6 separate regions of the Homo sapiens genome follow, and all the other regions are linked to region 1. The links come from fine-mapping of genetic effects on gene expression. A gene starts in region 1. Each other region holds a variant in brackets. All regions are shown on one strand. Distances are between the middles of the regions. Region 1 holds the start of SLIT1 (slit guidance ligand 1). Region 2 has its middle 13 kb from the start of FRAT1. Region 3 overlaps ARHGAP19 (Rho GTPase activating protein 19). Region 4 overlaps SLIT1 (slit guidance ligand 1). Region 5 overlaps ARHGAP19 (Rho GTPase activating protein 19). Region 6 overlaps ARHGAP19-SLIT1 (ARHGAP19-SLIT1 readthrough (NMD candidate)).

The links. PIP is the estimated chance that this variant, and not a neighbour inherited with it, causes the effect.
Region 2: its variant is the best candidate, but not a certain one, in a credible set for the expression of SLIT1 in whole blood (INTERVAL, PIP 0.51).
Region 3: its variant is the best candidate, but not a certain one, in a credible set for the expression of SLIT1 in subcutaneous fat (GTEx, PIP 0.70).
Region 4: its variant is the best candidate, but not a certain one, in a credible set for the expression of SLIT1 in thyroid (GTEx, PIP 0.79).
Region 5: its variant is the best candidate, but not a certain one, in a credible set for the expression of SLIT1 in whole blood (TOPMed, PIP 0.56).
Region 6: its variant is the best candidate, but not a certain one, in a credible set for the expression of SLIT1 in whole blood (INTERVAL, PIP 0.52).

What each region holds. Positions count from the first base shown.
Region 1 is chr10:97,183,799-97,187,884 of GRCh38, reverse strand. SLIT1 (slit guidance ligand 1) reads left to right here and starts at 1,926. Exons shown (of 37, transcript NM_003061.3): 1 at 1,926-2,407. The coding sequence starts at 2,211. The region is part of intron 11 of ARHGAP19-SLIT1 (ARHGAP19-SLIT1 readthrough (NMD candidate)); the gene reads left to right. RefSeq lists enhancers at 1,081-1,581, 1,582-2,082.
Region 2 is chr10:97,304,114-97,308,199 of GRCh38, reverse strand. No RefSeq gene overlaps it. Among named protein-coding and RNA genes, the nearest start is that of FRAT1, 13 kb to the left of the region's middle. The variant C/G (reference allele first, on the strand shown) is at 2,142.
Region 3 is chr10:97,225,802-97,229,877 of GRCh38, reverse strand. It overlaps ARHGAP19 (Rho GTPase activating protein 19), which reads left to right. Exons shown (of 12, transcript NM_032900.6): 10 at 4-114; 11 at 653-731; 12 at 3,746-4,076. The coding sequence ends at 3,756. It overlaps ARHGAP19-SLIT1 (ARHGAP19-SLIT1 readthrough (NMD candidate)), which reads left to right. Exons shown (of 15, transcript NR_037909.1): 10 at 4-114; 11 at 653-731. All of the region lies in intron 2 of LOC105378447 (a long non-coding RNA gene), which reads right to left. Among named protein-coding and RNA genes, the nearest start is that of SLIT1, 42 kb to the right of the region's middle. The variant C/A (reference allele first, on the strand shown) is at 1,650.
Region 4 is chr10:97,117,422-97,121,507 of GRCh38, reverse strand. The region is part of intron 4 of SLIT1 (slit guidance ligand 1); the gene reads left to right. Among named protein-coding and RNA genes, the nearest start is that of SLIT1-AS1, 17 kb to the right of the region's middle. The variant T/C (reference allele first, on the strand shown) is at 1,842.
Region 5 is chr10:97,254,659-97,258,744 of GRCh38, reverse strand. It overlaps ARHGAP19 (Rho GTPase activating protein 19), which reads left to right. Exons shown (of 12, transcript NM_032900.6): 6 at 2,341-2,427. It overlaps ARHGAP19-SLIT1 (ARHGAP19-SLIT1 readthrough (NMD candidate)), which reads left to right. Exons shown (of 15, transcript NR_037909.1): 6 at 2,341-2,427. Among named protein-coding and RNA genes, the nearest start is that of ARHGAP19, 36 kb to the left of the region's middle. The variant A/G (reference allele first, on the strand shown) is at 1,743.
Region 6 is chr10:97,205,201-97,209,286 of GRCh38, reverse strand. All of the region lies in intron 11 of ARHGAP19-SLIT1 (ARHGAP19-SLIT1 readthrough (NMD candidate)), which reads left to right. Among named protein-coding and RNA genes, the nearest start is that of SLIT1, 21 kb to the right of the region's middle. The variant C/T (reference allele first, on the strand shown) is at 1,728.

The DNA.
Region 1 (4,086 bases):
GGAGCTACTGCTGGAGCAGAAGGCTGGAGACATCTTCAACAGCCTGAGTGCTGTCTGTGACAGGCCTACTAAGTGCCAGGTGCTGGGGTGTGTGTCTGGGTGAGCGAGTGAGGATGCCAGGGGGTGGGCAGGGGTGTGGAGAAGCAGCTGCAGGTACTAAGAGGGGATAAACAAAGCAGCGGGCATGGAGGAATGTCACTCTGAGGCTGCGGGGAGAGCATGGATAGAGGGGCTGGGGCCCCATGGAGCAGGAGCTGGTGAGCTGCAGGGCAGGGGCAGCCCTCTCAGACTCCGGCCTGGTTTGTGGGAAGCTTCCCTAATATCCCACCACACAGGCACCCCTGAGAAAGCCCTGCCCCCTGAGAAACTGAACTTATGCTCAAGAACCCACTTACCGGATGGAGGTCATGGACAGGGATGTGTGAAAACTTTAAAAGAACTGTCAAAAGCCCATAAAATCAGCCACCTAAATTGTAACATACTGTGCTATGACAGTAGAGAGACTGCAAAATTCTCATCAACATGGAAAAGAAAAGCAAAGAAAACGCCTGAGCCTTGGGTACCTGGTGGGTGATAAGGCTTCAACCTTGTGGAGTCTATCAACCTCCCCTATCCCCACCCTGCCCGACACTCTCCCCACCAAATGCGTCCATGCTGTGTCTGGACCCAGGCCGCTCCTGAGACGGGAGGTGCTTCTCGGGCTACCCAGCTGTGTCCTCTTGCCAAGCAGCCTCACGTCAAGGCCCCGACTGCTGGACACTGCCCCAGCGAGCCACAGCTGTCCTTGGCGTTGAGGAGATCTTTCGTCTTTTCTGGGGTTGAGGAGAATTCTCTCCCCACCTGGATGTCCCGTTCACACCCACGTCCACACATGCCTTACGGTGACGAAGGTCCCTACCCAGCCGGGTGTGAGGCCTGGGTCTGACGGGGCTGGCCTGTGGGGTTCTCTCCCAAGCAGGCCGCCCAGCGCTATGCCAGCCCTCTCTGTCTCCTTTGATGTCAAGATGGAATATTCATTTTCATCTGTTTCCACCTGTCAGAAATGGAGGAACGCTGGTGTGAGTGGAGGAAGACGTTTGCCAGATTTCCAAGTCCCCTTAATGTCTGTCCCTCTCTTCTACAACGGGGGAAGAAGCCCGTGTAACTGTATGGTACAAATACGCCCTGCTGAGCAAGTGTTCCAATCAGAGCCATTCTCATCCTGGGCATGCGGCTAGCTTGTTCCCCTCTGAGAAGTGGGTGCATTGAGGTAGGAAGGAGACTGTACTCCGCCTAGCGCTTTCGTGGACCCTCCCCCCCGACAAAGCTCCATCCTCAAAGTCCAGGCTAAGTAAGGTTGGTGGCTTGAGGATGCTACCTGGGGCACAGGCACAGGGTTTCCCTTAACCAAGAATTGACACAGCGAGTCGGGTGGGGCCGAGAGGCCGCTGCTGCCGTCGGGGGATGGGGGGAAACGGGTCTGACTCCCCGGGAAGGCGTCCAAGCGGCAAAATAAGATCTCCCTCCCACCCTGGACTAGCAGCTGGGGCCGCGGGTGCCGGGGTGCGTGCGTCTAAATGTGCGCATCCTCGCCGTGTGTGTGTGTGTGTGTGTGTGTGTGTGTGTGTGTGTGTGTGTACAGCCAGGACTTGGCGGGTCGAGTCACACCCCCTTCCCTCTTCTCCCATCCCCCGCAGCCCCGTGCCCGCTGACGGCGCCTCGGAGGTTCCACCTTTGAAACTGTAGGCGGCTTGCAGCCGCTGAGTGGTCGTCGGGAGAGGGGGGCTGCGGCGGGGGAGGGCGGGGAGGAGCCTGGCCCTGGATGTGTGCTTTTCGATTGATGGATGACTGCCGGGTGGGAGCGAGCGCGCGGGTGTGTGTGTGATCGTGTGTGTGTGTGTGGTGTGTGCGCAGGGTGCGTGCGCGCGCGGGGCCTGCCCATTTTCCTCCTCGCAGCAGTCAGTTGGGAGCTGGAGGGAGGGAGAGGGAGACGCAGGCGGCGAAACGGCAGAGGAGCCGAGCCCCCTCCGCCCAAGGCGCCCTCCCTCCGTCCGCGCACAGGCGCCGTCGCTTGGAGGAGCAAGGTGCCTCCCAGCCCGCAGGGGCGCCGCGCGCAAGCCCGCGGGCTCTTCGGTGGCTCTGCCCCGGGACTGCACCTGGAGGCGGCCCCGGACGGGGATGGTCAGCGGCTGCTGCCGTCTGGCTCGCGAGCGGGACGCTGTGAGGGCACCATGGCGCTGACTCCCGGGTGGGGGTCCTCGGCGGGGCCGGTCCGGCCGGAGCTCTGGCTGCTGCTGTGGGCAGCCGCGTGGCGCCTGGGTGCCTCGGCGTGCCCCGCCCTCTGCACCTGCACCGGAACCACGGTGGACTGCCACGGCACGGGGCTGCAGGCCATTCCCAAGAATATACCTCGGAACACCGAGCGCCTGTGAGTATGGTCCCCGCCCCTGGCTCCCTGGCTCCGAGGTTGCCCTCCCACCCAGACGCAATTCCGGACTTGGGGGTGGGGGCAGGACCATTGGGGCCCGTCCGGGCTCCGCAGCCCACAGACGGGTCAGTGCCTGCCGGGGTCTTTCCCGAGCCAGGAGCCAGGAGCGCCGTGGTTTCCCCATCCCTGGGATTCAAAGGGCCCTCGGCGGGGTTGTCAGCTTCCGTCCTCACACCTGCACCCTGCACCCTGCACTCCGCACCCTCAGGCCCTCCTCACTGCGCCAGCGCTTTATTCCTCCAGGGTGCCTGCGAACTGGTGTCAGAAAGCCTTCCTTGCACCCAGGAGGGACACTTCCCACACTCGCCAAGCACAATGTCTCCTTTTGGGCACATGGGGCTACGGCCGCGTTCTGAGCCAGCTGCGCAGATTCCCGCTCCCAGAGCTTGCTCCTGACGAAGGGCAGCAGGGTGGGATGGAGGCGAAGTTTCTGGTCTGCCCCTTCTTCTCCATTGTTTGCCCCAGAGCCTTGAGAATTCTTCCCCTGCAGGTGCCACGCGTTGGTCCCCTACTCACCCGCCTCCCTCCACACCCAGCCATCCCCAACACAGGCAGACAATGGGACCTGAGGGCTTTGGGTATGGGGCTTGGGGTATGTAACATTCAGCACCCGAAAAGGGGCAGGTGTGTCTTGGATGGAGAACCCGGTGGATAATGCCAAGAAGTCAGGAGCTTGGAGAGGGGGGCCCAAGGTTAAAGATATTGACCATGACAAGTAATAAAAAAATAGCATTTCTCTTCCCCTGTTCTGTCTCACTTGTGAATTCTTGAGGAAACTTGATCCTTTTCTTTTCTAGACCCAGTAAGCTAGTAGAATGTGTGTGTGTGTGTTTGGGTGTGTTTGAGTGTGTGTATTTACAGACCTTTATACTTTGTTTTCTGTGACTCTCCTGCAGAATGTGTTTCTGTGTGAATTCCTAGTATTAAGGGGCCACCTTAATAGCGTGAGGCCATGAGAGTCCCCGTAATGGGCTGTGTGTGTGTAGATTTTGGTCACATGCAGGGCCTTTGTACTGCTCGCAGAGGTGACTACACCAGGAGATTTTTGAACAGGGCTTTGGAGAAGGCTGCTGGCTCCTTTGAAACCTACCTACTCCTCCTTCCCACACTCCTCGGTGACTGCAGTGGCTCTCAGGAAAGGTGTGCATATTTTGATAACTTTCGAGCACATTTTCATGGCCCCCAGCTGGTCAGAGACAGAAATCTGACCCTGAGGAGAGCTGTCTCCCGAATCAGACTCTGTACCAAGGCCAGCAATTAGTGAGCACACATTTGCCCCAGACTCTTCTTGGCTGCATCTGAAAAATTCCCGTGGAGGTTTTAGAGAATTTGCAATCTAGATGCAATCTAGATGGGAAGTGTGTGTGTGTGTGTGTGTGTGTGTGTGTGTGTGTGTGTGGTGCATGTGTATGTGTGTGTGTGAATGCTTGTGTGTTACAGGGCTGGGGAGAGGTGGTACCAAACTGAGTTTCTGTGGGCAGCGTGTGCATTATCCTGTGTGGACCCAGAGAGGATCTGAGGGTCAGAAATCTGTCCAGAGGACCCCCGCAGTGGCCTGGTCACCCTCCATGCCTGTCCCCTCTGTACCTGCTCCCTGCTCCCCTTGCCTTGTCCACTGG
Region 2 (4,086 bases), 120 kb before region 1:
CTTATTATGTTCCTCAAGGCACACTGATTCTTTCTTCAGTGCCTCAGCTGGTGGTTCTATTTCGGTCCTACTGCCCGATGCCCTTAATGTTTTTTTGGCCAGGTTCATGCATCTTGGGTCAGAACCCCGGCCTCTTTCCCTTTAATCCACTCTTCTGACAGATCAACTTCCTAATGCCCAACCCTGCTCAGGTTACCCACGGCCTCCCCTCTGAACAGGTCCACATGGCCTCTGGAGTAAACTCTTCCACTCCTTAACACAGTGTCCAGAACTCTCAGGGGGGCTTGCCCTGGTCCACTCCTCCAACTTTATCTTGTCCTCCACCTCCACATAAACCTTTTGTTCGTGTCAACTGGGCCCTTGCCAGCTTTCAAAAACATCTTACATGTTCCTATCACCCCATGTTTGTTCCTGCTCTTTGTGTAGAGAATGCACTCCCTGAATTCCACCCATCTAAATCTTAGTCCAGCTACAAACCTCCTCATGCAGCTATCTCTGCTCTCACCAAGAGTCAGTGGTTCCTCCCACTCTCCTTCTTCCCACTCTCTTTGGTTCCTCCAAGTGAGCCCTTACCACATACCTCCTTTCTATAGTGAGTTGGGCTGGTCTAGACTGTCAGATCCATGAATCTAGAGGTTAGGTTCCTCTGATTTGCCAGGCCTGTGTCGCTTGCCCACTCCTGTAGCCAGAAATGGGATCAATGCCACTTAAAACACATGGACTGAGGATAAAGGAGCATAAAGGAGCAGAGAACCTCTACAGAGATGCTGCATGCATCAGAACAAAATCCTATGTCCAATATAGGCAGGATGTGTTTTTTCCATAAGATCTAAATAATCTCATTGTTTCTATGCATTTTTTTTTTTTTTTTGAGACAGAATCTGGTTCTGTAGCCCAGGCTGGAGTGCAGTGGTGTGATCTCGGCTCACTGCAACCTCTGCCTCCCGGGTTCATGCAATTCTCCTGCCTCACCCTCCCAAGTAGCTGGAACTACAGGCACCTGCCACTACGCCTGGCAAATTGTATTTTTAGTAGATATGGGGTTTCACCATATTGGCCAGGCTGGTCTTGAACTCCTGACCTTGTGATCTGCCCGCATCAGCCTCCCAAAGTGCTGGGATTACAGGCATGAACCACCGCGCCCGGCCAGGAATCTTTGGTTTGATTCATTTGTTCCTTTATTCATTCAACAAATAGTTGGCTAAGTAAAGCCAAATGTGTCACTTGACCAGCCTTAAAATAAAAAAGATCCTTTTTTTTTTTTTGAGATGAAGTTTCGCTCTTGTTGCCCAGGCTGGAGTACAATGGCGCGATCTCAGCTCACCACCACCTCTGCCTCCCGGGTTCAAGCAATTCTCCTGTCTCAGCTTCTCAGGTAGCTGGGATTCCAGGCTCATGCCACCACGCCCGGCTAATTTTTGTATATTTAGTAGAGATGGCACATTGGTCAGGCTGGTTTCTAACTCCTGACCTCAGGTGATCTGCCCACCTTGGCCCCCCAAAGTCCTGGGATTACAGGCGGGAGCCACTGTGCCTGGCCGAAAGATTCTTAAGTCATGAAGCTACACTCCAGTAGAAGACAACACCACTCAAGCAATCATATAAACACATCTAGAAATGCAGCAAATGTGAAATGGCAGCCTGGGACAGAGTTCTTGAGTTCTCCAGAAGTTGTTTAGGTTTCCTAATCAAAATGATTATGTGGAATTATGTTAACTGGGCAACAAGCATTTTCTTTCACAATTGGAAGCGGTCCTTATTCCAGGCCGGGGGTGGTGGCTCACGCCTGTAATCCCAACACTTTGGGAGGCTGAGGCTGGTGGATCACCCGAGGTCAGGAGTTTGAGACCAGCCTGACCAACATGGTGAAACTCCATCTCTACTAAAAATATAAAAATTAGCCAGGCATGGTGGCAAGTGCCTGTAATCTCAGCTACTTGGGAGGCTGAGGCAGGAGGATCCCTTGAGCCCAGGAGGTGGAGGTTGCAGTGAGCCAAGATTGTGCTACTGCACTCCAGCCTTGGGGACAGAGTGAGACTCCATCTCAAAATAAATAAATAAATAAACAAATAAATTCACATATTTCAGAAGAGGTAGTTTTGTATTTAATTCACATTAAAGTGTAAGTGAATGAACAAAAG[C/G]AGCTCTTTTGATAACTCTGAAAGAAGGTAAGTCCTATGGATGGGAATGACTAGATCCCTGGATGGGGATGTGTAAGCCTAAGGAGCTGAAGGACAATTTCCTTTATTTCTGATTTTTTTTTTTTTTTTTTTTTTTTAGACAGGGTTTCACTCCTGTCACCCAGGCTGGAGTGCAATGGTGTGATCTCAGCTCACTAAAACCTCCACCTCCACGGCTCAAGCAATTCTCCTGCCTCAGCCTTGAGAGTAGCTGGTACTGCAGGTGCAAGCCATAGCACCCAGCTAGGTTTTGCACTTTTTTTGGCTGGACGTAGCGGCTCCCGCCTGTAATCCCAGCACTTTGGGAGGCCGAGGTGGGCAGATCACCTGAGCTCAAGAGTTCGAAACCAGCCTGGCCAACATGGTGAAACCCCGTCTCCATTAAAAATACAAAAATTAGGCCAGGGGTGTTGGCTCATGCCTGTAATCCCAACACTTTGGGAGGCCGAGGCTGGCAGATCACGAGGTCAGGAGATCGAGACCATCCTGGCTAACATGGTGAAACTCCGTCTCTACTAAAAATACAAAAAATTAGCCGGTGTGGTGGTGGGCGCCTGTAGTCCCAGCTACTTGGGAGGCTGAGGCAGGAGAATCGCTTTGAACTTGGGAGGCGGAGGTTGCAGTGAGCTGAGATCTCGCCACTGCACTCCAGCCTGGGCAACAGAGCGAGACTCCATCTCAAAAAAAAAAACACCCACATAAATTAGGCCCAGCGCAATGGCTCATGACTGATTGCCTGAGGCGGGCAGATTGCCTGAGGTCAGGAGTTCAAAACCAGCCTGGGCCACATGGTGAAACCCCATCTCTTTTTTTTTTTTTTTGAGACAAAGTCTTGTTCTGTTGCCCAGGCTGGAATGCAGTGGCGCCATCTCAGCTCACTGCAAGCTCCACCTCCCGGGTTCATGCCATTCTCCTGCCTCAGCCTCCCGAGTAGCTGGGACTACAGGTGCCCGCCACCATGCCCAGCTAATTTTTTGTATTTTTTAGTAGAGATGGGGTTTCACTGTGTTAGCCAGGATGGTCTCGATCTCCTGACCTTGTGATCTGCCCGACTCACTGGGATTACAGGTGTGAGCCACCACGCCAGGCCGGTGAAGCCCCATCTCTACTAAAAATACAAAAAATTAGCTGGGTGTGGTGGTGCACTCCTGTAATCTCAGCTACTCAGGAGACTGAGGCATGAGAATTGCTTGAACCCAGGAGGTGGAAGTTGCAGTGAACTGAGATCGTGCCACTGCACTCCAGCCTGAGTGACAGAGCAAGACTCTGTCTCAAAAAAGAAAAAAGAAAAATGAAATAAATAAATAAAAATTCTGTTTTTTGTAGAGACAGGGTTTGCCATGTTGCCCAGGCTGGTCTTGAACTCCTGAGCTCAAGTGATCCACCTGCCTCGGCCTCCCAAAGTGCTGGGATTACAGGTGTGAACCACCATGCCTGGCCTTACTTTCTGATTTTGAATGGGGGAATCTTTGAAGCTGACTCTGAAGCCTCCATATCTAGAGGACAGAGAGGTGGGGAAATATTAGTGCCTTTCCTGACCTTCATCCTACTTCCTAATCACTATAGAGACTTTATGTGCAAAATTTCTCTTCATACCAAAACAAACTCCATGAAAATGGGTTACAGTGGTAGGAAAAAGGGATCTGTGCATCAGTTCACAAGACCATGGAGGCAACATCCAACGTAGTGGGCTCACAATGTACTGGCTTGCTCTTGACTATCACAAATGTGTTACTGCTTTGAAACTTCCCACCAGCCCCTGTGGCCTTCTGACCTGAGGCCTGGGTTAGGGTCTTAGTTTGTTCTCTGTTGCTTATAGCAGAGTTCCTGAAACCGGGTAATTTATAAAGAAAATAAATTTATTTCTTACAATTATGGAGGCTGAGAAGTTCAAGGTCAAGGGGCT
Region 3 (4,076 bases), 42 kb before region 1:
CAGCGGAAGGTCCTGGGAAATCAGATGATGTCAGAAAAGAAAAAGAAGAACCCTACTCCAGAATCTGTGGCCATTGGTGAATTGAAGGGAACCAGCAAAGAAAATAGGAACTTAGTAAGACACTGTTCTTTGGACTGTCTGTCTGTCTGTATATATTTGTAGAAAAGAGGAAAATTGATATACTGTCATCTGTTTTACTGTGTTTCTTTGGGCCATTCAAATGGCTTTTTCTCAATCCTTTCATTTATGCTACCTTCTTTCTGTTGGTTTTCATTGACTCATTCAACAAACAAACACATTTTGAATTCAAGAATGATATCACTAGTCACAAGCAGATGAGTAGTACAGTACAGTAGCTCCTTAAACAAGTGCTGGAGGAAGCAATTAGTTCTTACTGGAAGATTCCACAGGTGACATTTGAGCCAGGCCTCCTAGGCTCTATATTACCTGTGGGGTGGTGGTTCAAGATATCCTAGGCATGCCTACTTCATTAAGCCAGCAGTAAATCAGTTAAGATTAATGAGATATAAATACATCAGTCTCAGAAAAACTCTTCACATTGAAATTGAACAAATAATTCATTTGTTAGTAAAGTCTGTCTATAGGAATGGCATTAGAACATTGAAACCACTGTACAATTTTCTTATTACAGTTATTTTCTGGCTCTCCAGCTGTCACGATGACACCAACAAGATTGAAGTGGTCTGAAGGGAAGAAAGAGGGGAAAAAAGGTACTAATTGTACTTACTCTCTGTTCTTACTAAATGTAATTCCTTTCTGCATCTAGTCAGTAGCATTTGTTTGAATTCCCAGGATAGTACATTTGTAGTCAGAAGTGACATAAAAATTACAAGGCCAGGTCCTTGCCCTTGAGTTCATTCACCAGATGGTTATTGAACCATTTACTCAGCATTGTCTTGGGTGCTAAGGGTAGAGCTGTGAACACAGACCCACATGGTCCCTGTGTTCTTGGACAGACAGGACACATGGGGGAAAATACCTTAAGAATACTTGCGAAGCAAATTAAAAACAAGTGTAAATGAATTTGTGAAACCAAGTTCAACAGTGCTGGGAGTATGCTTATGGAATAGTTAGGTTCCTTTTCTGTGTAGGCCAGCCCTAATTAGTGAAGCTTTCTAGATCAACAGCTCGTGCCTAAGGATCCTGGAAGTCATATCATACAGCATATTTTGGGGGCTATTTAGGACAAAGAGGACTATTTAATGCTGGGACTGCTGATTGTCCCAGGCTCTTCTGGTAAAAGCCTGCTGTGCCTTCCTCTGAAGGAGCCAAGTGGGTCAATGGAAAGACCGTGAGATTTGTGGTTAGTCCTGATGGGAGTTATCATTCCTCTGACCCAGGAAAACCACCCATTCTCTATGAATTCAAGTTTTCTCCTCTGAAAATGAGGATAAAAGTTACATCTACTTCACAGATTTATTAATTTATTATGAGGCTCAATTGAAATAATGTTTTGGCAGCACATTGTCATTGTTAAATCATTAACAAGTGGTTATAGTTGTTACTGTAGAAAACGGGCTGAAACCTGGTCTTGTTATATAAGGCTCATGTGGCAGCTGAAGTGAGTCTGGTTTGACATGATTGTTTTATCACTGGGATATGAGCATAATTACTATTTGAGACATCAG[C/A]AATAGGCAGAGATCAAAAGCCTAATCCTTATGGATAAATTCTTTTCTGGAAAATTAGATTTCAGTATATTCTTCTTACTTATCCTTGAATGAATTATCTAAACTCTCTTTTCTTTCCTCGTTGCTTCTGTCTTCCAGGCTGGGCTGTCTAATTGAGACAAGATGGGGGTTTGAGTTTTTTGTGTCTAAATATTTCTGTATGTCCATGAATCAAAACCAAGCATAAGTTATTTTTGAAGGCTACATTGTTTTGTATCAGTTACAACTTTTGTTGCTGTCATTTTTGAAAGACATGCGGAAATAATACCTTTCTGTATTGACAGCTCTACCTTGGAAAGAAAGAAAGACGTTTTTTAAAAACCAGTCTAATATTTCACCAATAAGCTTTAGAGCAGGGATTGTTGACCTTGTCATCTGTGGACTTCCTAAATGGTCTAATAAAGTTCCCGGTATTGTTGATGCAATCTTTTGTGTAGGTACATATGTGTATTTTTCTGGGGGAGAGAATATATGGTTCTAATTAGATTCTCAAAAATGTTAGTAGTTCAGAGAAGTCGAGATAATGAATGACCCTCAATTGGATCAGGCAATGGCATTTTCACTTTACTCTCTCCTGGTCACTTCCTCTATCTGGAAATGCCTTCCTGGTGTTATGATGCTACATTATTCTCGTTCTTCTTCCTCTTTAATTCTTTTCCTTATCTGCAGTGGCTTACTGTTGTTTGCCTATTCCACTACATCTTTATTTTTTTCAATGCTCTATCTTAAGTTCTGCTCTTAAGTTCTGTTCGTTTCTGCACCTGCTTCTCCTGCCTCTTTGCAGCTTGGTCTCCTTCCACTGCTCAGCTCTGCTCTCTGTATGATAACTACTTCCAGCCTGGCAATGCCAGGTCTGAACTCTCTTCAGACATTGGCAGTCTCCAAGCCCACAGATCCAGGTGCCTGCCATGTATTTCTTTTATACAACAATGAATATACAACCTCAGATTTTTTGATAGTGATGTTTATAATAAAAGTAACATATTCTTTGAAGAAGATAATGTAATTTTATTACTGTGATCAACAACATAATCCAAAAAGACTATTATTTAGTACAGGATTTCTCAACCTTGGCACACTACTGACATGTTGGTTCAGATAATGCTTTGTTGTAGGAGCTGCCATGTGCACTGTATGATGAGCAGCCTTCCTGGCCTTTACCCCATCGATGCTGGGAGCATCCTTCCCCCAGTTGTGATAAGTAAAAGTGCTTCTAGACATTGCCAAATGTCCCATGGTGGGTGAGGAGGCAAAGTCATCTCCACATGAGAACCACTGATTTAGCACCTACTTATTATGGCCATTATTTTCAGTAGTCAAAATCTTACCCATTCTTCAAAGTCTAGCCTAAATCTCACCTCCTCTTTGAAACTTTCTCTGGCTAACACAGCCAAATATAATACTTTTTCCTTTGAACTTATTAATGCTACAAAAATATTGACACTTAGTATGATTTACTGTATTTACTTCACATATTGTCTTATCTCTGTAACTAGTTTTTCTTCTAGAAGACAAAGGTCAGACTTAGTGTATTTGTGGCCTTCTGTCTCCTGTTCTTCTCATCTTCCGAAAAATGACAGTGCCTTGTGCTGAGTCGGCTTTTAGTAAACATTGAGTGTTGAGAGGGGCGGTGGTGGTAGGAGCATGAGTTCTGCATTCAGCTGGGCTTGGGTTCCATTCCCAGTTTTGCTGCTTAATAGCTTATATATTAGTCCTCGGGCAAATGAACTATGTAGGCTGCAGATTCTTACTCTGTAAAATGGTAGGAGTAGTACCTCATATACTGGTTATTGTGAGGATAAATAATGTACATAAATAACTTAGAGCAGCACAAAATATGTACTTACTGTTAGCTGTTACGGCCATTAAGATGATTTAATGAACGAGATTATATCAGGCAGATGTTTATTTGGTAGAGTCACACATTCTTAATTAAACTCATTAGCCTTCAGTTTGGAGAAAATATTAAGTGTAGACCCTGTAGCTTTTGAGTGGGATGTTTGCAAAAAGAAATATTTAAGAACATGTCTAACGCTCTTGTTTTTCCTTCAACCTAGGATTTCTCTGAAGGATCCAGAGTTGTCTCCTATGGTCCATGCAGAATTTTCTGTTTAGTGGGCAGGTGTTATTCCTGCCCACAGCAAAGCTTGGACTTGCAGCTTGCTTGCTGCATTTTGAATTGTCAAAGCCAACTAATACCGTGACCCGACTGATACCTCTAACCCCACTCACTGGATGATGTTTGCAAGCTGTGCCTTCTGAGAGAGTGCTTAGGCCCTGTCTCTCTTTTTTAATATTATGGGGAAACCACTAACTATCCAACCAGCTTATACAGCACACTAAGGTGGGCTTCAGTGCTCACTCAATGTGTTTAGGCAGATTCCACTT
Region 4 (4,086 bases), 66 kb after region 1:
CCTCGCAGAATTACTGAAGGCTTAAATAAGAGACTGTATGAACGGCACTTCCACAGGCCCTGGTGCATAGTCGGGGTGCATTTGTGTTTAAGAAGGGAAAGCTGGTGGGGCTCTGCACATGTTTGAAGGGATGGCAGCTCTAAGAGCAGAGTAGACAGATCAGCTCGTCCTGGTGAGAGATTTCCCAAGTCTGCAGAAGGGAGGGGGTAAGCCGACTGCCTTCAGCGTGGCTTCTCAGGGTGACACCACTTATTGTGTAATTATGGAACAATGTGCATAAAAGTGAAAATGTGGGTCCAGATGGCAGGCCTTCCATGCTGTTGAGAGGCAGAGCTAATGAACTTAACAAATCACTGATAATTAATTTTCAGAAGCCAAAGGAAACTGGGGAGCAATGAATAGGTCTACAGAAGGAGAGAATGCAAAGTAGTGCCAACTGTCAGCCTGGAGAGAGGTGTGAGATGCTGGCACTTCCAGGCCAGGGAGACCGTCTTGACATCTAATAGTTTTGGTGGGACAGAACCGGGAGAGAGAAGGCGGTCCAGGTAATATAGTAATAGTCATGACAATATTAGCCAAGCTTGAATGAACCCTTCTATGTGGCAGGAACCATTGTAAGCATTTTATTTGGATCGGCTCTCATTTCAGGCAGCTTCTCCCGTAGGGTAGGGAGAGAGAGTCAGAGTCCAGTGGGTGATAGGGGCCTTTGTCTTACTACCATGGAGCAATGAGGCAAAGTGATGAGAATAGCTAATATTTACTGAGCACTTGCTGTGTGCCAAGCACTGTGCTGAACTCTTCCGGAGGTGTCGGCCGCTTAGCATCATCAACATCCTAGGAGGAGGCACAGAGAGGGTGGGTGACTTAGCCTGCACCCTCAGCAGGATGCAAAGCCTGTGAAAATGTGGAGCCAGGAAGGACTGCGCCGCCGCTCAGAGCCGCCCGTGCACACGGTGTGAAGCAGCATTGCGAGTCAGGAAACTGCGTTTCGGCTCCAGTACCCCGACACAAGTCCTTGAGCCTGCCCGGAGTTTTGTTTCTTTAACTGTGAAATGGGAGCAGTGGATTTGAATCAGGAGGACACACACTTTTCAGACAACAGTCCTGTGTATTCAAGTAAATCTCACAGGGCACCGGAGATGTAAAGCAGACATTGGAAAGGAGGGTGGGGTCTGCTCACTTGCGGCCCCTCCTTTCTCACAGAGCCCCAAAGCCATTTGGGTCTCATTTGGGCAGCTGGGGATGAGCTCAGCAGTCACAGGGAAGTGGCTGTGGGGAGCGGGCCTGGCACACTGTCTTCTTGCCCAACCCTGGGCTGAATCTGACCCTGCACCTTACTAGCTGTGCAGTCCTAGGCAACTAGTTTAACCTCTCTGAGTCCTGTTTTGCTAAACTGTAAAATGGAGCTAAAACTTCTTTGGGTATTCATAAGGATTAAATGTCATAATGTTGTAAAACTCTTAGCTCTATGGATGGTGCCCAATAAAGGCTCAACTAGAAGGTAACTGACAGATAAATGTTTGTTAAATGGATAAGTACTTTTGAATCTATATACATATACATATATATATATATATATATATATATATATATACCCCTTTGGAAAAAAAATATGTATTTCCTCCTAAACTTTCAAGACTAAGTGAGGAAGAATTGGAAGCCCCAGGAAGATGGGCCAATCTGCCAACATTGGGCATATTTGCTCCAGGTGAGAACGAAGGGACTGATCTAGCTGATGGGGTGAAATGTTTGAGTCCCTTTGTCTTCCTCGCTGGCTGCCAACACAGAGTGGGCGTCCACCGGGACCCTCCCCACCGCTGCTGAGCCACCTCCTGCCTGTC[T/C]CTGGGGGTCAGATGCAAAGCCAGGGAGGATGGGTGAACCCAAGGCGCCGTCTCCTGAGTCCTCCCAGACCCTCCCGATGACCTCCTCGCACCGCCCCGTCGCAACCCACCTTCTGTTCACGGCCCATCAGCTGGCTTTCTCCCTGACTGCGCTCGGATTTGAGCCATTGTGAATTCATGTTTCCAGATTAATTAGCAAGGCCCCATGTCAGATGCTAACTGGAACCCAGATGTCTGCTTGGTTCCTGCATCAAATCATTTTGTCCCTGTAATTGAAGAACACGGAGGCAGCAGCCAGGCTGGCCAGACCCACTAGCTTCCCCCGCCCCTTTCCATTAAAAGAGAAATAAACCCACTTCCCACCTGGGAGGATCGGGGAAGGGGGATCTGCCCACCATTTCTGTGCCAGCCAATAGGATGGCGATGAGTTGACCCCTGACCTTCCTGTGAGGGTGGGGTTCCCTGAGGAGTTTCCCATGGGTTTACAGGAAGGTAAGAGGGGTGGTGAGGACGGAGAATTCTTCCTAATTTTGACTTTAGCCAGACACCCGTTTCCCAAGCTAGAACACTGCCCCTCCAGGGGAACACAAGAGACCCCAGGCAGTGCCTGCCTGAATGGCCCATCGCTGCTGGGCTGCGTGGAAACTTCCAGCTTCGGGGTCACGTTGTGCATGCCTGAGTGAAACAGACATGTCAGAGCAGGGATGTATTTCCGTTTCTCTCCAAGCCATATGTTGTGCATGTGTGTGTATGCCTTTTGTTTTTTAGCTATAATTTATTGGGCACTTACTATATCCCAGTCGTCATGGCTAACATTTTATATGTACTGTCTCATTTAATCCCCACAGCAATCCTATAAGAGAGGATTCTTTTATCCCCATTTTTTCTGGTGAGGAAATTATGTATAGTTCAGAGAGGTTAAGTAACTTGCCCAAGGTTACGTGGCTAGTGTGTGACAGAGTTGGGTTTGAATCATTCGGTATGTCTTTTAAGTGGAAGCAGCAGTTACAGGAAAGATGAGCCATGTTTCCTTCCCCCTTAATAATGTGTGTTCTCCTGGGCAGAAGAGGTGAGAACAGGTTTGGTCATACCTTCGCCTTTTCTATTGAAGGTCAGAACCTGCGACGGCCATTTTGGAGATAGAGGAGCGCTTTGATGGGTGGCACAGAAGATGCCAAGGGAGGCCAAGAGATGCATGGGCTGGAGTCTGGAGTGTGCCCGAAGCCTGCAGAAAGCCCTTAAAAGTGGGGAGTGGGCTCTAACTCCATGGCTAGGTCAGTGCCCCAAGTCCTGCTGCGCCAAGAAGTGGAGGACAAAGTCCTGAAGGCCCTGAGTTCTTTGGGAAGTTCATGGGCATCCCAAAACTGAGGGTTCAAACCCAGCTCCAGCTTACGCAGCCTGTGACCTCGGGCTGCTCGTGTCACCTTTTTGAGTCTCAATTTCCCCATCAGCAAAATGGGCCTAAAACCTTCTTATACCATATAGTCCTTGTAAAGCTGCACTGAGTATTATGTGATATTCAGGCCCTCAGGAAATGTGAGCGTACTGTGATGGGGCCAGACACCTCAGAACGTCTCAATTTAATAAAGTAGAATCTTAAATAGTAAATGCAAAGATTTGGAATAGCCATGCTCAAACACTAGAGAATGAGGAAGCTGTTTATTAAAAAATGTAGATTTCAGAGCCTTACCCCTGACCTTCTTATTGAGAATCTGAGGCTGGAACCAGAACTCTGCATTTTGACAGATCCCCCTGGGGTTTCTGAAATGTATTCATTGAGCTTTCATTCTGAGACACATTTACAGAACATTCAAATATAAGAGCCGGCAGTGACTTCAGAGGTCTTTTAGGCCCCTCCATTCACAGAGAAGGAACTCAGGTTGTAACTCGGAAATGAGTTGTCCTCAGGGAGAGCCAGAAGTGGATCTTAGTTCACTGATTTTTCAAAATAGTTGCTGGTAACTGAGTGACTTGCATGTGCGTCACTTGCATGGCCCAAGCCTCATGGACTTTTTCAGACTCAGCAACCGAAGAGATTATTTATATACTCTCAAATTCTACCCTTCCAATTTACCCCTGGTACACTGTCACCAGGTGGCAGTAGTATGCTATAGAGCCTCAAGGGTTGTTCCTGGAAATCCACACCCTTGTGGATTTATAACCTTGAATAGTCATATTCCTTTTTTTAGTTGTTAACATGAAGACAAACACCTTTATTATGCTAGCTAAATGCAAGCAAACATCA
Region 5 (4,086 bases), 71 kb before region 1:
TGTTGCCCACGCTGGAGGAGAGTAACACAATCACTACTCACTGTAGCCTCATCTAAAGTCTTTTAAACAACTTGTTGACCTGGAGGTACATAGCTCATATTCCTGCCCACTTATAATATGGTTTTACTATGTGATGGAGTTGTGAGCCAGGATAGGTGGGTTGGAAGCCACACACCAGCGATGTTACCTATGTCTTTTACCTTTTTTTTTTGAGACAGAGTCTTCCTCTGTTGCCTAGGCTGGAGAGCAGTGGTGCAATCTCAGCTCAGTGCAATCTCTGCCTCCCAGGTTCAAGCAATTCTCCTGCTTCAGCCTCCTGAGCAGCTGGGACTACAGGCGTGAGCCACTATTCCTGGCTAATATTTGTATTTTTGTATTTTTAGTAGAGATGGGGTTTTGCCATGTTGGTCAGGCGGGTCTCGAACTGCTGACCTCAGGTGATCCACCCGCTGCTGCCTCTCGAAGTGCTGGGATTACAGGTGTGAGCCACCGCGCCTGGCCTTTTACCTTTCATGTTTTAAACAGCTGTCTACAAGCCATTTTTTGTTTGTTTAGTCTTTTGCCTTTTCTATGCATAGGCTTTTCCTCTGTAAACTGGGCATAATACAGTAAGTCCTCAACCTATTAACATCGTTGATAGGTTCTTGGAAACTGAAACTTTAATCAAAATAATCTATAACAAAACAAATTATTTTTCTCATCAATGTTATAATGAAAAGATGTTGAAGAAAATGATGTTATTCGAGGACCTGCTGTATGTCGGTTCACTTAACGTCATAGTTTCCAAGAACCTATTGATGCCTTAAGTGAGGACTTACTGTAATAGCTTTACTACATACCCCACAAGGCTGTTGGGAAGATAATAGAAATAGGTTATAGTAATTTATAAAAAATTTTTGAGATTATAAGTAATGAGAAAAGGAAGGTAAAGGAGAGAGATTGTGTGAAACATTTTACTTAAAAAATAACTAGTGAAAAAATAATAAAGTTCTGGGTCAGGAAGAGCCTCTGGGGGTGAGTAGGGGGAGCAGAAGACACATCAACATTTGTCCATATTAAGGAGATCAAGCCTTATAATGAAGGAATTTTAGAACCAGCTAACCAAGACTATAGAAAAGCAGTGAGCAAACTGTGGTTATAAAAAGAAGTAGTGACTTACGCCTGTAATCACAGCACTTTGGGAGGCTGAGGTAGGAGGACTGCTTGAGGACAGGAGGTTGAGACCAGCCTGGGCAACACAGTGAGACCTTGAGACCTTGAGACCTTGTCTCTACAAAAGGAAAAGAAAAATAAGCTGGACGTGGTGGCACATGCCTATACTCCTAGCTACTTGGGAGGCTGAGGTGGGAGGATCGCTTGAGCCAAGGAGTTTGCAGCTGCAGTGAGTTATGATTGCACCACTGTACTCCAATCTGGGTAACAAAGCGAGACCCTATCTCTAAAAAAAAAAAAAAAAAAAAAAGTATTTAAAAGCAAACAGATAAAGTAACAAAGATACATGTTGAAAATGAGGGCTTTGGGATAGTAGAGTTACTGAATTACTTAAAAAAGACAGGAGAAACAAGGGAAGGGAATCAATGACAATTTTGCTGTGTTTTTTGTTTGTTTGTTTGTTTGTTTTTTTGAGACAGAGTCTTGCTTTGTCGCCCAGGCTGGAGTGCAGTGGTGCGGTCTCGGCTCACTGCAAGCTCTGCCTCCCGGGTTCATGCCATTCTCCTGCCTCAGCCTCCCGAGTAGCTGGG[A/G]CTACAGGCGCCCGCCACCACGCCCGGCTAATTTTTTGTATTTTTGGTAGAGACGGTGTTTCACTGTGTTAGCCAGGATGGTCTCAATCTCCTGACCTCGTGATCTGCCCGCCTTGGCCTCCCAAAGTGCTGGGATTACAGGCATGAGCCACCACGCCCGGTAATTTTACTGTGTTTTTAAGAAACAGATGTCACCTTTGGTATCAGTAGTGACCATTCTTTTTTGTCTTTGGAGAAACTCTAGTTTTCTAAAGAGGCAGTGGTGTCCTTGATAGCTGGAACAGATTCTGTTTTTTTCTGCCCATTTTGAATCCTAGACTAGATTTTCCTTGCCAATTTTGTTTACATGTCTAATTTTCAAGCAGAATTAGGAAATGAAAATGGTTTTCAAGGATTTCCTCGTCACTTCAGGGACACATTGTTTTTCTAGATTATGTCATATCCTGATGAACCAAAAAGTCTTCCCAGAATTAAACATTGTATTAGAGGCACCTAGGCTAGGGATAGAAACTTCATACATTTGAAAGAACAGGCTTATTGGTAAGTACTACTTTCTAGCTCTTAATGTCCATTGTTTGGTTTCTTTTCCTCTGAATAGGTCACTGCAAATGACCTTCAGGAGAATATCACAAAGTTAAACAGTGGGATGGCTTTTATGATTAAACACTCCCAGAAACTTTTTAAGGTAGGTAAGGGATAGCATTTGGCTGGTAACAGGACAAAGAAAATGGAGCAAGGTGGGATCCTAAGTGGGGCTATAAAGATAACTAAACGAGAAAAAGGTCCTGAATGGGATTGCAAACCAGAATGGACAGTGGCAAAACCCAGGGGGTAACAACCACTATGGTGGAAAGGAGTAGGAATAGGAGGCTGAGTAGGGCTGGGTCCTCTGGGTAACTGACTCCACCCTCTGAGCCATTCTTCCTTTTTCACAAAGGCAGCACACGTGGCAGCTAGGTAGTTTTATCCTGCCTGCTTACTGCCAGTAGAGTTTTGGGGGTCTGCCAGTAGAATTTTGGGGGTCATTTTGTACTCTTTGGCCCTTTCAATCCAAACAGGCTGTATTTCTGCTGACATAATTTTCTAAGAACTTTGTAGGTCTTCTGTGGATTTCATTGAGATTCATTCTATTAGACAAAGGCCACATATACAAATCTTTTGAAGATAAATCTTTCCCTACCTTGGTCACCTGCTGAGAAACCTAAGGGACAGTACCTTTAAGCTTCCTAAAGGCTTTCTGGTTTAATTGAGAGGATCTGTGAGGTACGCTCTTACTCTCTTGAAAGGGCCCTTTGTATGATTGAATACTCTGACCTTTTGATGTTTCTAAGGTTTTAGCAAAACGTAGCACAGTCACATCCTTGACCTTTTCTTTAGTGTATACTTCCTTGATAGTGAATCTCTTAATTTTAGCATCTTTTTTTTTCAGACAAGGTCTCACTCTGTCGCCCAGGCTGGAGTGCATTGGTACAGTCTTGGCTCACTGCAGCCTCAACCTTCTGGGATCAAGTGATGCTCCCGCCTCAGCCTCCCCAGTAGCTGGGACCACAGGCATACACTGCCACGCCTGGCTGATTTTTTGTATTTTTTTGTAGAGACAGGGTTTCAACGTGTTGCCCAGGCTGGTCTTGAACTCCTGGGTTCAATCCTTCTGCCACAGCCTCCCAAAGTGCTGGGATTACAGGCGTGTGCCAATTTTAGCATCTTTTGCCATCTGGAGAGGCTGAAAGTTTCCAAGATCATCCAGTTCTGGTTTCTTTTTTTCTTGCAGTAAAATGCTTATAAAATTTGCCATCTTAACCATTTTTAAGCGTACAGTTCTGTGGCATTAAGTACATTCACGTTGTTGTGTAGCCATCATCGCCATCCATTTCCAGAACTCTTCATCTTGCAAAATTGAAACTCTGTACCCATTAAACAGTAACTCCGTAAAACCCTCCTCCCATCCTTGGCAACCACCATTCTACCTTCCATCTCTATGAATTTGACTACTCTGAGTACCTCATGTAAGTGGACTCATACGGTATTTGTCTTTCTGTGACTGCCTTATTTATACTTAGCATAGTGTGCTCAAGGTTCATCCACACAGTAGCATGTGACAGGATTTCCTTCCTTTTTAAGGGTGCGTAGTATTCCACTGTGTGTATATACCACATTTTGCTTATCTGTTCATCAGTTGATGGATATCCCTTTATATTCCAGATATCATCCTTTATCAGCTATATGGACAAATATTTTCTCCTATTCTGTGGGTTGCCTTTTTACTTTGTTGATAGTGTGTTTTGATGTGCAAATTTAAAAAAATTTTATGAAGTCTAATTTGTCAATTTTTTCTCTTGTTGCC
Region 6 (4,086 bases), 21 kb before region 1:
GCAACCATCTGTGTCCATGGAATACCTCATTCACTGTCATGGAATTCTACATAATATAGCTTCTGTCTTGCTCTGTCGCCCAGGCCGGAGTGCAGTGGCACGATCTTGGCTCACTGCAACAACCTCCACCTCCCGGGTTCAAGAGATTCTCCTGCCTCAGCCTCCTGAGTGACTGGGATTACAGGCACCCGCCACCACACCAGGCTGATTTTGTATTTTTAGTAGAGATGGGGATTCACCATGTTGGCCAGGCTGGTCTCAAACTTTTGACCTCAAGCAATCCACCCGCCTTGGCCTCCCAAAGTGCTGGGATTACAGGCATGAGCCACCGCGCCCAGCTGTCTTTTTACTTTCTTATTGTGGCTCCAGAAAATGTTGAATTACCTATGATATCTGAATAGCTAGTATATGTATATGGCACCAGATTCAAAAGGTATGAAAGGATATTGAGACTCACAAAATGGAAGAAAATATTTGCAACTTATATATCTGACAAGGGAGTAGTGTCTAGGATATATAAAGAATTTTTTTTTTTTTGAGACAGGGTCTTGCTCTGTTTCCCAGGCTGTTGTGCAGTGATGTGATCACAGCTCACTGCAGCCTCAACCTCCTGGGCTCAAGCAATCCTCCCACCTCAGCCTCCCCATTAGCTGGCACTACAGATGTGTACCACCATACCTAGCTAATTTTTTGTAGAGATGGGATCTCGCTGTCTTATCCAGGCTGGTCTCACGTTCCTGGGCTCATGGGCTCAAGCCATCCTCCTGACTTAGCCTCCCAAAGTGTTGGGATTACAGGCATGAGCCACTGAGCTTGGCCAAGAATTCTTACAACTCAACAATAAAAAAAAACAAATAACCCAATTTAAAAATGGGCAAGGATATGAATAGACATTACTTCAAATAAGACGTACAAATGTCCAGTAAGTGTATGAAAAGATGTTCTGCTGCTTGAATCCAAAGAGTGTTAGTTCATGTCCTGTCCAGGAGATGATTTCCCCCACCTTGACTTTCCCCAGTGTCATTCAAGCCCCAGCTTTTAAGATCCCGCCCCCTAGAAGCCTTCTCTCTCCAGGCAGAGCTCTTGGCTCCACTAGCTGAATTCCCACAGCAGCATGAACGCATCTCTTCTGGAGCCCTGGTCACGTTGCACAGTGTTTATGTGACTGCTTTTCTTAGAGATGGTGAGCTCCTGCAGGGAAGGGATCAGTTCCTATTCACCCTTGCATCTCCCTGGCTTAGCAGGGTGCCTGGAACACAGCAAAGACTCAGTGTCTGGCTGGCTGGCTTGCAGGAAGGACAGCTGTCTCTATTTTTAATTTTTTTAGAGATAGGTTCTCACCTGGGCTGGAGTGCAGTGGTGCGATGACAGCTCACTACAACCTTGAACTCCCAGGGCTCAGGCGATCCTCCCACCTCAGCCTTCTGAGTAGCTGGGACCACAGGCACGTACCACCATGCCTGGTTGCCGCCTCTATTCTGGACTGAGAGTAGGAGACTGTAGCAGGAAGTCAAACCTGATTAGGTAAAGACCACGGCTCAGAAAGGTTAGGGAACTGCGCAGAGAGTTCTGGAACTGTGGCTGCCTCCATCTTACTAGAAAGATGAAACTGCTTTCTGAACCTGAAAACTCACCTATCTGGCTTGTAGATCTTTTAATATTCTAGGTTCCTGACTGAATGGGACGCCCATGAGTCACTGTAGGGGGGGCACAGGTCTGAGGAGAGG[C/T]AAGGCAGTGAGTCCCTAGGTTTCAGCTCAAACAGAAACCCTTTGAGCTCTGAAGGGGCATGTGCTTGCCATAGGAGGGAGCACCTGCTGGTCCTTCCCTCTCTGGCTCTGGTGGGTTGTTTCTGGAAACCCTTGGGTCCTAAGGAAACCCTTTCTCAGTCTGCCCCATTGGCTGAGGGCAGATGTGGGAGATGAAGGATGGGCAGGGGCCCTGCTCCATGAACCCGCACTTGGCCCGCCCTGGGGAGCCAGCAGGGTGCTCTGTGAACCCACACTTGGCCCACCCTGGGGAGCCGGCAGGGTACTCCATGAACCGGTACTGGGCCCACCCTGGGGAGCTGGCAGGGGTTGCTGGGCTCACCACCTCCTGTCTCTACAACCCCCAATCGCTGGCCGCTCACAAGTGGCCATTGGATGTGTGAGAGAGATTTCCACAGAAAGTGTTTCTGTGGCTGCCTCATTTTAATTAAGTGAACCTGGAATTTAAGGGTTAGCTCCTCGGTTTTGGGGTGAGCCTCTTGTAGAAATCCATCTCTTGTAACTCCCAGTGTTGGCAAGTGTGTAGTGAGATGGGGACCCTCACACCTGCTTGGGGTCGGCGGGGGGCTTTTCTGGGTAGTTTGGCAATAAATATCAAGCCTCAGACATTTCCCCTTGTGTTATCATTTATTTTTTAGGTGTGATAATGCGGTTATGTTAAAAACAGTCCTTTTGTTGTAGAGATACATACTGAAATATCCATGGGTGAACTACACAGCAAACAAATCTGGGATTTGTTTCGGCATCATACATTTGGGGTAAGGAGCGTGGGTGGGGTATAGCTGAGAAAAGCTTGGCTGTGGGTCAGCTGTTGTGGATGCTGCTGGATGAGGGGTTCAGGAGTTCATGGTACTGTTCTGTCTACATTTATTTATTTTTTAAAATTCCATAATAAAAAAGTTCAATTAAAAAGTCCCCTTTGACTTGGCATTTCTACTGTGATGACATCAGTCCAAACCCCCAGCATCACTCACCAGGCTTCCCTGTTTTCATTCCCATCCCTCCTCGGTTCAGGGGGATCATGCCCCATCTGCATCTCCACTCACAGCCCTGGGATCCCTAGGGCCCACCTGCCCCCAGGCTTCCAGATCCCAGAGCCTGTGGGTGCTCTCTGGCCTCAGCATCAGGGACACTCTCCCTCCACCCCCAAACCCCTCACCTGGATGGTGACTACTCATTCATCTGATGTCAGGTTGGTGTCATCTCAGGGGAGCTGCTGACTCCCAGGCAAAGTCACACTTCTCTAATACTCTCCATCCTTCATGGATGGGTCCTTCATAGCTCTCACTATAATTTGTAACTATAAACTCTTTTTTTAATTAATTATTTTTTTGAGACAGGGTCTCACTCTGTTGAGGCTGGAGTGCAGTGGCATGAACACAGCTTACTGCAGCTTGGCCTCCCAGGCTCAAGTGATCCTCCCACCTCATCCTCCCAAGTAGCTGGGACTACAGGCACATGACACCACGCCCGGCTAATTTTTGTATTTTTAGTAGAGAGGGTGTTTCATTATGTTTCCCAGGCTGGTCTTGAATTCTGGGCTCAAGCGATCCGATTGCCTCAGCATCCCAAAGTGCTGGGATTATAGGAATGAGCCACCACACCCTGCCCTGATAAGCTCTTGTGATTGCTTTTGTTTCATTGCAGTCTGCCTCCTGTACTAGACTGTGAACTCTCTGAGGGCAGAGACTATGTCCGTGTGGCTTACCACTGCATCCCAGAGCCACACACAGAGCCTGGCACATAGTAAATTAATGCAGAAGGGGACACGTGTTTGACAAACATGTATCATGTTCCAGGCAAACTCTGTGCATATAGTTGGCTGGCTGAGAACATACAGTTGGAAATGTTAGGCAAGGGCCACATCACAAGGGCCTTGTGGCAACATTAGGGGACTGGCCGGATGGTGCAGATCCAGGGAGCCATTGAAGGTGCTCAAATGGAGGAGTGGCATGTGCTCCAGGCAGCCCCTCTGGCTGTCTCATGTTGGAAGGGAGACCCTGGAGGCCGGGTAGCCAGATGGGCTGGCACTGGGGTCCCATGGGGGCTTGAGCTCAGGCCAGGGCAGTGGTGATGGGGGCGGGAACGGAGCCAGTGTTTGTGGCAGTGATCCGATGTGGCAGCTTCTTGGCCCTTCTTCCCTGAAGAAACAGTGCCTCTGCACAAGAGAGGTGGGTAGGAGCTGTATAGGGCCCTGCTGGGGACAGAGTATGTTCCACAGACACATCCCTGGATCACAAAGAGGTTTGCAAACGGTCACTAGGAAGTGATTATACAGCACGGTGCCTTGGGGCAGGGGTAGGGGCAGGACCCTTGTCCC